2 separate regions of the Homo sapiens genome follow, and region 2 is linked to region 1. The links come from fine-mapping of genetic effects on gene expression. A gene starts in region 1. The other region holds a variant in brackets. All regions are shown on one strand. Distances are from middle to middle.

Region 1 (5,370 bases):
GGCGTGGTAGTAAGTGCCTGTAGTCCCAGCTACTTGGGAGCCTGAGGCAAGAGGATCTCTTGAACCCAGGAGCTCAAGGCTGCAGTGAGCTATGACTGTGCCGCTGCACTCCAGCCTGGGCAACAGAGCAAGACCCTGTCTCTAAAAGAAGAAAACCTCTGTTCCTCAGGGTTCCCCCATCCTTGGGCAGTGCTCCATCATGGCATCCACCGCCTTGACTGTGACGCCGCCTCCTCAAATGGCCTTCCCTTCCACACCCCAGCAGGAGGGCAACCCCATCACCATCCTGTGACTCCCTGCCTCTGTCACCTAACGTCACCTCTGTCACTATCTATTCCCTGCTTAGAAACCATGTGTCCCACCCCATGGTAAGTTCCACTCTATCTGTCTTACCCCTGCTGTACCCCAGCACCTAGCACAGTAGCCAGCATGCGTTAGGTACTCAAATATCTGGTGAATGAAAGAATTAATGAATGGATACAATAGTCATGTACAGATCCCCTTAAGACTCCAAATAGTTACACAATCAAATTCAGCAGGAAGTGTAAATTCTGGGGCCTCCAGGGCCCAGGCAGATGATAGACATATGAAGGGGTTAGGGCTGGGATGAGGCAGAGTCTACAGGCCCCACCTCCTCAGAGTCCTTCTCAACTACACTCAATAGATGCAAACAGCTCTCCTGAATCTTGAGTTGCAGAATGTTCCAATTTTTCAAGAAAAATCAGACATCTTAATTTTTATATAAAATCTCCTGATTAAAAATCTAATGTTGGCATCTAATTTTAAAAGTGGCAGGTCTGCAGCACTCTGAAAGCAACAGCTATGTGTGAGGTTGTTCATTCATTCATTCACAGGCATCGGAGGACGGGTACGGCAAGAACAAAGGATGGGACAAGCCAAGCTAGGGCCTCTTCTCTGAAGTTTACAGTCATATGTGAGGGGCAGACATTAGCCAGATGACAGCAAACATAACAGAACATTATAACGGTAGGAAGTGATGTGAGTGCTCACATCAGGGAGGTCTGGTAGGAGAAAGAAATAGATGACAGAGGTAGGCAGAAAGGCTAGCACATTCTCAGTCATCTCCCACTCACACACACGCTCAATTAAAGAGAAAACTTGTGGCTCACGCCTGTAATCCCAGCTCTTCGGGAGGCCAAGGCAGGGATCACTTGAACCCAGGAGTTCGAGACCGGCCTGGGCAACGTGGAGAAACCCCATCTCTACAAAAAATACAAAATTTAGCCTGGCATGGTGGCACACACCTGTAATCCCAGCTACTAAGGGGGCTGAGGTGGAAGGATCACTTTAGCTCAGGAGGTCGAGTCTGCAGTGAGCCATGATCGCACCACTGCACTCCAACCTGGACAACAGAGCAAGACCTTGTGTCAAAAAAAAAAAAAAAAAAAAAAGAGAAAGAAAGAAAACGAAGGTAGGGCTTGGCGAAACAGAACTGTCCTCTGAAGTGGACCATGCAATTCCAGGATCCAATTAGACCTTACCTGTGCTGGGCTCCCTGGACTCCTCCCCAAAGCCCTGCGTGTCCTTCTTTTTCCTACAAAGAGGAGCAGACAGTGTCCACTTTCAATGGGACATAGAGTCCTCAGCCCCCTGACCCCCAGCTCAGAAGGCCACAAACACTAAGTTTCAGCCCTGGCCCTGCCGCAAACTTGCTGTGTGACCTCTGACGTTCAATACCCTTCTCTGGGCCCCCACTGCCCGGACAATCACAGCCAGGTCAGCAGCCACCGACCGTTTACAAAGTGGCCCGACAGTGCGGGTGCAGGGCGGAAGGTCCGCGGTGGGGCTATTTCTTGGGGGATGGGGCTTAAGCTCTCCAGGAAGGTGAACAGAGGGACAACCAAGGAACGGAGAGTATGGGTTTAAGGTCTCTCGGGGGGTGGGGGGCGAGGAAGATAAACCAGGCTGGAGGCGTGCCCAGAGGGCGGATAGGGCGGGGCCTGCGGCTTGGGGGCGGGGCCTGAGAAGTGCGCCGAGATCACGCTTATGAGGGCGGGGCTACGGGTTCCCCGGATGGAGCCGCAGTCCGGCCGCGACCTACTCACAGCTTAAAGTTCAGCACCGCCCCGGCATTCATCAGCAACGTCCTGCAGAGGGAGAATTACAGTTACTAGGGGCGCCCCCGCGTCCTGCCTGGCTCTCTCTTCCCAGCCTCTGGTCCCCCTAATTACCCGAACAGCAGGATGTCTCCGATCATCGTTACGGCCGAAGCGTCCGTCAGAACCGGAAGCGGAAGCCCCAGGGAGGGAGGGGAGAGGAGCACAAGCCGACCAATCCTAAAGCAACAGTGGCGAGGGCTGGGCCAATCGAAGGTCAAGGCTGGGAGGGTCCCGCCCTCTGCAGGCCAGACCCCCTTAGGGGAGCGCGAGCGCCCCACCTCGCTGGGGAGGCCCCGAGAGCCAGAATGGGAGGAGCGGGGTCTCCTGGGGGCGGGATTGGGTCACGCGTTCGAAGCGTGCCGCGCATGCGTGAGGTCTCGATGCCGTAGGGTTAGCTGGGCAGCAATTCCTACTCACTTTCTGGGGTCCCAAATTGGGCTTCTGGACAAAAGGAATCCTTTGACTCCTGAGCTGCACAGGGTGCGGGGTCCTGACGCAGTGGGGTCCCTAGAAACGGGTGCCCCAACCAACTGGGCTCTAAAATGAGATCCTCCTGGGCCCCATGGGGAACGGGGGTTCCCACTGAGCTGCCCCCCACAAGACGTCCTGATTTGCAGAGCCCCACCGGAGACGGGGTTCCTGATCGAACGGACCCTATGGGGCAGAAAAGTCTTGACGGGGCTCCACAGAGGACCGAGGTCCTAACCTATCTCCACGGGGAACAGGGGTTCTGATTCATGGGGTCCCACCATGGCGTAGGGGTCCTCACTGGGCTCCACCGAAGATCGGGGTCCTAATTGAGCCCACGGGGACAAAGTCCTGGCCGATCCGGCCCCCTGGGAACGGGCGTCCCGCGTGGGTGGGCTCCGTGAGGGACGGGCCCCCAGAACAGGCAGCTCCCCAGCCTCCCTCGCCTTGCACGGGTGCCCCGCACCCCGCCTCGCTGGGCGGAACGGGGTAGCGATGGCAGGAGGGTCAACGCCTGGGACGCCCGACCGTCCAGCTGCGTCCGTGGTGCTGGGCGTCCCCACCACCTGTCCCGGGGTGGGCCGTCGCCCCTCCTCTCCCGCGGGGGCCGGGCCTGGGGTGGCGCCTGGCGGGCGGGGGCGGGCCCAGCTGCGGGGGCGCAGTCGCCGGGCCGCGGGCGGCGGGACGGACGAGGCCGGGGCCCCGGGTGGCACCCGGCAGGCGGGCAGGCGGGCGCCATGGAGCTGCTCTCGGCGCTGAGCCTGGGCGAACTGGCGCTCAGCTTCTCGCGGGTGCCGCTCTTCCCCGTCTTCGACCTCAGTTACTTCATCGTCTCCATCCTCTACCTCAAGTATGAGCCAGGTGAGCCGGGGCGGGGGGCTGGAGGGGACCGGCAGCGGGTGGCGCGGGCCGGGGCAGCTCGGGGGTCGCAGAGAGGGGAAGCCCGTGCGTGGTGGAGGGAGCGAGGGACAGGTTCAAGGATTGCATCGTGGGAGTAGGCAGGCGCTAGAATCGTGGGGTTCTCTCACGCCGGGGTGAGCCCGGGGGAGAAGCCCCCAGGACGATGAAGCTGGGGGAGGGGAAGGAGAGGCGTGCGCGGGTTTAGAGGAGGGGGAACAGGTGCTTGGGGTCGGGGCTCCTGGTTGGGTCAGAGCTGCAGGAACTTGGGCAAGGGGCGCCGGCTGTGGCGAGGGTGCAGGTGGGGGTCGGTGCATCTGTTCTGGCCGCGCGCAGGTGTGACCTCCCTCCTTGACCTTGGCACGCGGATTGAGAGCGCCAGCGGAGTGTCTATAAGGGCCACTGCGCTGGGGGCTGCGGTCAGGTTCAGCGAAAGTGACACCGGTTCTCCTCCCCACTGCAACTGCCCAGCACCCTCCACTCCCCTCCCTTCCCCCACGGTGCTGAATCTCCGAGCCCCCACGGGAATTCTTCCAGCCCTGGCTCCAGATCCTTTCCACTTACGGAGCAGAACCGGCCCCAAGGCTGGGTGACTTGGGGTCAGTGTCCTCCATCTCAGCTCCAGACTCCACGCTGGGGAGGTCACAGGAGGGTACAGCCTGCTTCTTAATTTTTAAAATGAGGATGAATGGCTTCCTTAGAACGTGTTCTATTTTTATAAAAGGTTCACCGTGAACAAATGTTTAAATGTTTCTTGTTCACCGTTATTCTAGAACACCAGCAACTTACTAGATAATAGATTTTAGGCTTAGAAAAATAAAGGAACCCCAAACTTCATAAGCCTTTCTCCCACTTAGATGTAAATTACCACTATAGCTCAGAAAGGAAATAGCTTTATTCTCAGAGGATAAAAATAAGCGCCCCTGTTTACTAAAAACTCAAACTGAAAAGGGCAAAGGAAAAAAAGAGAATTACTGTCAACATACTGGTGGCCAGCCACCTTTCTTGATGTCTCTTCTATTCATTTACGGCTATATAGTTATAAACGTAAATGCACGCTTTTTTTTTTTTTTTTTTTTTTGCGGTTTTTTTTTTAGATGGAGTTTCGCTCTGTCGCCCAGGCTGGAGTGCAGTGGCGTGATCTCGGCTCACTGCAACCTCCACCTTCCAGGTTCAAGCGATTCTCCTGCCTCAGCCTTCTGAGTAGCTGGGACTACAGGCACCCGCCACTACACTTGGCTAATTTTTGTATTTTTAGTAGAGACAAGCCTTCACCATGTTGGCCAGGATAGTCTCGATCTCCTGACCTTGTGATCCACCCACCTAGGCCTCCCAAAGTGCTGGGATTACAGACGTGAGCCACTGCACCCAGCCAATGCACGCTCTTATGCTAACAGGATTACACTCTATTTGCTAGGAATTTTTATTCTATTTTTGCCTATCCACATGCCAGAGCCTATTTTCTTAAAAGCTATCCTGGAGAACATTACTTTGCAAAACAAAATAGGCTTTTGTGTTGTCCTAGCATGAACATGGGGCTATCTTTCCTTTCTGGGGAAGAATTCTTGGTGGTTCAGGCCAGTTCCTTGGGCAGTTGCAGAACCTTAGAAAATCTGAAACTGGCTGGGCACAGTGGCTCACGCCTGTAATCCCAGCACTTTGGGAGGCCAAGACGGGCAGATCGCCTGAGGTCAGGAGTTCGAGACCAGCCTGGCCAACATGGAGAAACCCCGTCTCTACTGAAAATAAAAAAATTAGCCAGGCATGGTGGCACATGCTTGTAATCCTAGCTGCTTGGGAGGCTGAGGCAGGAGAATCACTTGAACCTGGGAGGCGGAGGTTGCAGTGAGCCGAGATCACGCCATTGCACTCCAGCCTGGGCGAC
Region 2 (5,370 bases), 36 kb after region 1:
CATGGGTGACTCACACCTATAATCCCAGGGCTTTGGGAGGTGCAGGACGGAGGACTGTTTTAGCCCAGGAGGTTGAGGCTGCAGTGAGCTGTGATGGTGCCACTGTACTGAAGCATGGGTGACAGAGCAAGACTCTGTCTTTAAAAAAACAAAAATGTGAATAAATGAACAGCTGTGCTCCGCCCATAGTATTGCCTACTGTTCAGCGAAAAAAAAAAAAAGGCGGTGGAGGTGGTGAACATGCAAAAACATGAATGAGTCTCGAATGTATCCAGATTGGTGGGAAAAAGCCATACAAAAAAGAATGTGTAATATAGGCATCCATTTATCTGAAATCCTAGAAAAAGCAAACTATTGTAACAGAAAGCTGATCAGCATGTGGTTGGGGAAAGAAGGACAGGGTAGGGCAGGTGAGAGGAATTTTGCAGTGGCACCAGGAAACTCGGGTGATGGATCTGCTGATGGCTTTGATTGTGCTGGTTTCTTGGGTCTATACCCATGTCTGAATCTATTAAATTTTACTTTTGGGTTTTTGTTTTGTTTTGTTTTTTGAGATGGAGTCTTGCTCTGTCACCCAGGCTGGAGTGCAGTGGCACGATCTTGGCTCACTGCAACCTCTGCCTCCTGGGTTCAAGTGATTCTCCTGCCTCAGCCTCCTGAGTAGCTGGGATTACAGGTGCCCACCGCCATACCTGGCTAATTTTTGTATTTTTAGCAGAGACAGGGTTTCACCATGTTGGCCAAGCTTGTCTCAAACTCCTAACCTCAGGTGATCTGCCCGCCTCGGCTTCCCAAAGTGCTGGGATTACAGGCGTGGGCCACCGTGCCTGTGCCTGGTCTAAATTTTGCTTTGATTACTTAAGATTTAAAAAAAAATTAACTTTTTTCTTATTTATTTATTTAGAGAGACAGAGTCTCGCTCTGTCGCCCAGGCTGGAGGGCAGTGGTGCAATCTTGGCTCACTGTAACCTCTGCCTCCTGGGTTCAAGCAATTCTCCTGCCTCAACCTCCAGAGTAGCTGGGATTACAGGTGCCCACCACCACGCCTGGCTAATTTTTGTATTTTTAGTAGAGACGGTTTTGCCATATTGGCCCGGCTGGTCTCGAACTCCTTGCCTCAAATGACCCACCTGCCTCAGCCTCCCAAAGTGCTGGGATTACAGGCTTGAGCCACCACGCCGGCCTCTTTTTTATTTATTTTTAATTAATTATTTTTTACTTCTTTTTTTCCCACTCATTCAACCTAAGTACTTAAAAGTTTTCATTTTATATATGCATAGTTCATCTATCAGTTATGCCTCAGTAAAGCTATAAAAAAAGAAGCTTTCAATTATAAGGAAAAAAAGTCTGGGCATGGTGGCTCATGCCTGTAATCCCCGCACTTTGGGAGGCCGAGGCCAAAGGATCACTTGAGCTGAGGAGTTCATGACCAGCCTGGCCAACACAGTGAGACCCAGTCTCTGCAGAAAAAAAAAAAAAAAAAAATTAGCCAGTTGTGGTGATGTGAGCCTGTAATCCCAGCTACTCAGGAGGCAGAGGTGGGAGGATCGCTTGAGCCCAGGAGTTCGAGGCTGCAATGAGCTGAGATTGCACCACTGCACTCCAGCGTGGATGACAGAGTGAGACCCTGTCTCATAAATAAATGAATAGGCTGCAGTAACATACTCCAGACAGAGTCGCTTAAGCCACAGACATTTATTTTTCCCTAATTCTTGAGGGTGGAAGTTTGACATCAAGGTGTCAGTTGGTTTTGTTTCTCAAGGCCTCTCTGCTTGGGTGGCAGACGGCCGCCTTCTCTGTCCTCGTATAGTCTTCCCTCTTCGTATGTCTGTATCCTAGTCTCCTCTGCCTACGAGGACACCAGTGAATTAGATCAGGGCCCACCTATAGACTTTTTTTAAAACTTAATTATCTTTTTTTTTTTTTTTGAGATGGAGTCTGGCTTTGTGGCCTAGGCTGGCGTGCAGTGGCGCCATCTCGGCTCACTGCAACCTCCACTTCCCGGGTTCAAGTGATTCTCATGCCTCAGCCTCCCGAGTAGCTGGGATTACAGGCACGTGCCACCATGCCTGGCTAATTTTTGTATTTTTAGTAGAGATGGAGTTTCACCACGTTGGCCAGGCTGGTCTTAAACTCTTGATCTCAAGTGATCCACCCACCTCAGCCTCCCAAAGTGCTGGGATTACAGGCATGTGAGCCACCCTGCTTGACTGACTATTTTAACTTAATTGTCTCTTTAAAGACCTTATCTCAATCAGTTTGGTGCTAAAAAAATTTAAAAAAAAAAGACCTTATCTCCTGTTTTAGTCCTTTCAGTGTGCTACAACAAAATACTATAAACTGGTGGCTTGTAAACAACAGAAATTTATTTTTCATGGTTCTGGAGGCTGGGAAGTTCAAGATCAAAATGCTGGCAGATTCACTGTCTGGTAAGGGCTGGCTATCTGGTTCACAGATGGTGTCTTCTTTTGGTGTCCCCACATGGTAGAAAGATCAAGGAGTTTCTTGGGGGCCTCTTGTGGAAGGGCACTAATCCCATTATGAGGGCCACATCCTCATGACCTAATCACCTCCCAAGGGCC[G/C]CACCTCCTAATACCATCACCTTGGGGCTAATTTTGGACTCAGGTGATCTTCCTACCTTGGTCTCCCAAAACAAAGGGATGTGAGTCTCTGTGTCCAGCGTCCTTTAAGGATGGATTAAATTAAAGTAACTGACAATGCCTGGTGCAGGTAAAGATTTGGGGGCAGCTGGAGCTCGCACACTGCTGGTGGGAGACAATTGGACAGTTTCTTTTAAATTTATTTATTTATGTATTTATTTGAGATAGGGTATCACTCTGTCATCCAGGCTGGAGTCCAGTGGTGCAGTCATAGGTCACTTCAGCCTCGACCTCCTGGGCTCATGTGATCCTCCCGCCTCAGCCGCTTGAGTAGCTGGGACTACAGGCACACATCACCACATCCAGATAATTTTTGTATTTTTTATATAGATGATGTCTCGCCCTGTTGCCCAGGCTGGTCTGAAACTCCTGGGCTCAAGTGATCCTCCTGCCTCAGCCTCCCAAAGTGCTGAGATTACAGGTGTGAGCCACCTTGCCCAGACTGATAGTTTCTTATTAAATTAAACATCACTTACCCTATAAACACAACAATCCCTGATAGTTTCTTATTAAATTAAACATCACTTACCCTATAAACACAACAGTCCCATTGTGGTGAAACAAAAATTCACCTATTTTTTTTTTTTTTGGTAATCACCAAAAACTGGGAACATCCCAAATGTCCATCAGTTGGTAAGCGGATGAGCCACCTGGTTTATGCATGTGATGGAACATTACACAGCAATGAAAAGGAGTGACCTTCTACAGCAGTGTGGTTGAATCTCAAATGCATTTGCTAAATGAAAGAATCCAGACCCAAGAGACTGTGTGCTCCCATTGGCGGGACATTTTATCTTTAGAGATGGGGTATTGCTTTGTCACCCAGGCTGGAGTGCAGTGGCAGGAACATGGATCATTACAGCCTCAAATTCCCAGGCTCAAGGGATCCTCCCGCCTCACCCTCCTGAGTGGCAGGGATTGCAGGTGCGTGCCACATACTCGGCTGTAGGTCATTTTAGAAATACAAAATTTTGGGCTAGGTGCAGTGGCTCACACCTGTAATCCCAGCACTTTGGGAGGCCGAGGTGGGTGGATCATTTGAGGTCAGGAGTTTGAGACCAGCCTGAAACCCTGCCTCTACTAAAAATACAAAAATTAGCTGGGGGTGGCAGGTGCCTGTAGTCCCAGCTACTCAGGAGGCTGAGGCAGGAGAATTGCTTGAACCCAGGAGGCAGAGGTTGCAGTGAGCTGAGATCGTGCACCACTGCACTCCAGCCTGGGTGACAGAGCGAGACTCCGTCTCAAAAAAAAAAAAAAGAAAAGAAAAGGAAAGACAAAATTTTAAGTATAGAAAACAGATCAGTGGCTGCCAGGAGTTGAGATGGAAGGAGAGATTATCCACAAGAGAGACAGAGGAATTTTGGGAGGGAAGGGACTGTTCTGCATTTTTAACGTGGCAGTAGTTACACAACTGTATATGTTTGTATAAACTTGCAGAATTCGCCCGGCAGCGTAGCCCTTTTGGGAGGCTGAGGTGGGAGGATCACCTGAGGCCAGGACTTTGAGACTAGCCTGGGTATCATGGTGAAACCCCATTTCTGCAAAAAATACAAAAATTAGCCGGGCATGGTGGCATGTGCCTGTAGTCCTAGCTACTCAGGAGGCTGATGTGGGAGAATCACTTGAGCCTGGGAGGCAGAGGTTGCAGTGAGCCGAAATTGCACCACTGCACTGCAGCCTGGGCAACAGAGCCAGACCTGTCTCAAAACAACAAACAAAAAAACAAACAACAAACAAAACAAAAAACCCACAAAGAAACACTACAAAAAAAACCTTGCAGAATTTTGTGGCTAAATTCTACCTTAATCTAAAAAGAAAAGGAAAAAGAGAGCAGCCTTTGGGGTTTCCCAAATCTGTTCAAATCCTGTCTTTGTTTTTTTTTTTTTTTTTTTTTTTGACAGATTCTCACTCTGTTGCCCAAGCTGGAGTGCAGTGGTGCCATCTTGGCTCACTGCAACCTCCGCCTCTCGGGTTCAAGTGATTCTCCTGCCACAGCATCCCGTGTAGCTGGGATTGCAGGCAAGAGCCACCATGCCTGGCTAATTTTTGTATTTTTAGTAGAGTCAGGGTTTCAACATGTTGGCCAGGGTGGTCTTGAACTTCTGACCTCAAGTGATCCTACCCGCCTCGGTCTCCCAAAGTGCTGGGATTACAGGTGTTAGCCACCATGCCTGGCCAAACCCTGGCTTTTAATCTCCGAGATACGTAGCTTGGGCAAGTAACTCCCCTTCTCTGAGCCTCAATTTCCTCTTAGGATGGCTAGGAGGAGTGACTGGAAAGTCCTTGGCACAAAGTGAGGTCTGGAGTTGGGACAAAAGCTGCCTCTGTCAAAGTGCTCACAGAACCCCTGGTCGGGTTCATTTAGCATCTGGTGGGTGTTGGAGATAAGTCGGCTCCCTGCCTTCTGGCACTAATGTTCTGAGATCTCATTTTCCAAGAGAACAGATTGTACCAAAATAGCCTCCCAGCCTAGTCTGCGAAGGGGGTGTGCAAGCCACTGGCCAGGTGGAGAATGATTGGCGGGGCAGGCTGGGGCTGTTGTCCCAGTGTGGGTGTGAGAACTTGGAGGATCGGCTCTCAAAGTCCAGGCTAATTTGGCTGCAAGTTACACTCAGTAACTTCCTTGGTCTTGGAATGAGAGAAAGTTTCTTTTTATCCTTTTTAAAAAAAATTGTGGTAAAATACACAACATAAAACTTATCATCTTTTT

Evidence for each region. PIP is the estimated chance that this variant, and not a neighbour inherited with it, causes the effect.
Region 2: its variant is fine-mapped to the expression of SMIM7 in prefrontal cortex (GTEx, PIP above 0.99). The same link has a PIP of 0.9 or more in amygdala, atrial appendage, caudate, cerebral cortex and putamen.

Annotation. Positions count from the first base shown.
Region 1 is chr19:16,657,893-16,663,262 of GRCh38, forward strand. SMIM7 (small integral membrane protein 7) reads right to left here and starts at 2,252. Exons shown (of 5, transcript NM_024104.4): 1 at 2,193-2,252; 2 at 2,067-2,108; 3 at 1,503-1,555. The coding sequence starts at 2,218. It overlaps TMEM38A (transmembrane protein 38A), which reads left to right and starts at 3,247. Exons shown (of 6, transcript NM_024074.4): 1 at 3,247-3,449. The coding sequence starts at 3,326. RefSeq lists silencers at 2,845-3,044, 3,065-3,314 and an enhancer at 3,600-4,408.
Region 2 is chr19:16,694,035-16,699,404 of GRCh38, forward strand. No RefSeq gene overlaps it. Among named protein-coding and RNA genes, the nearest start is that of NWD1, 23 kb to the right of the region's middle. The variant G/C (reference allele first, on the strand shown) is at 2,583.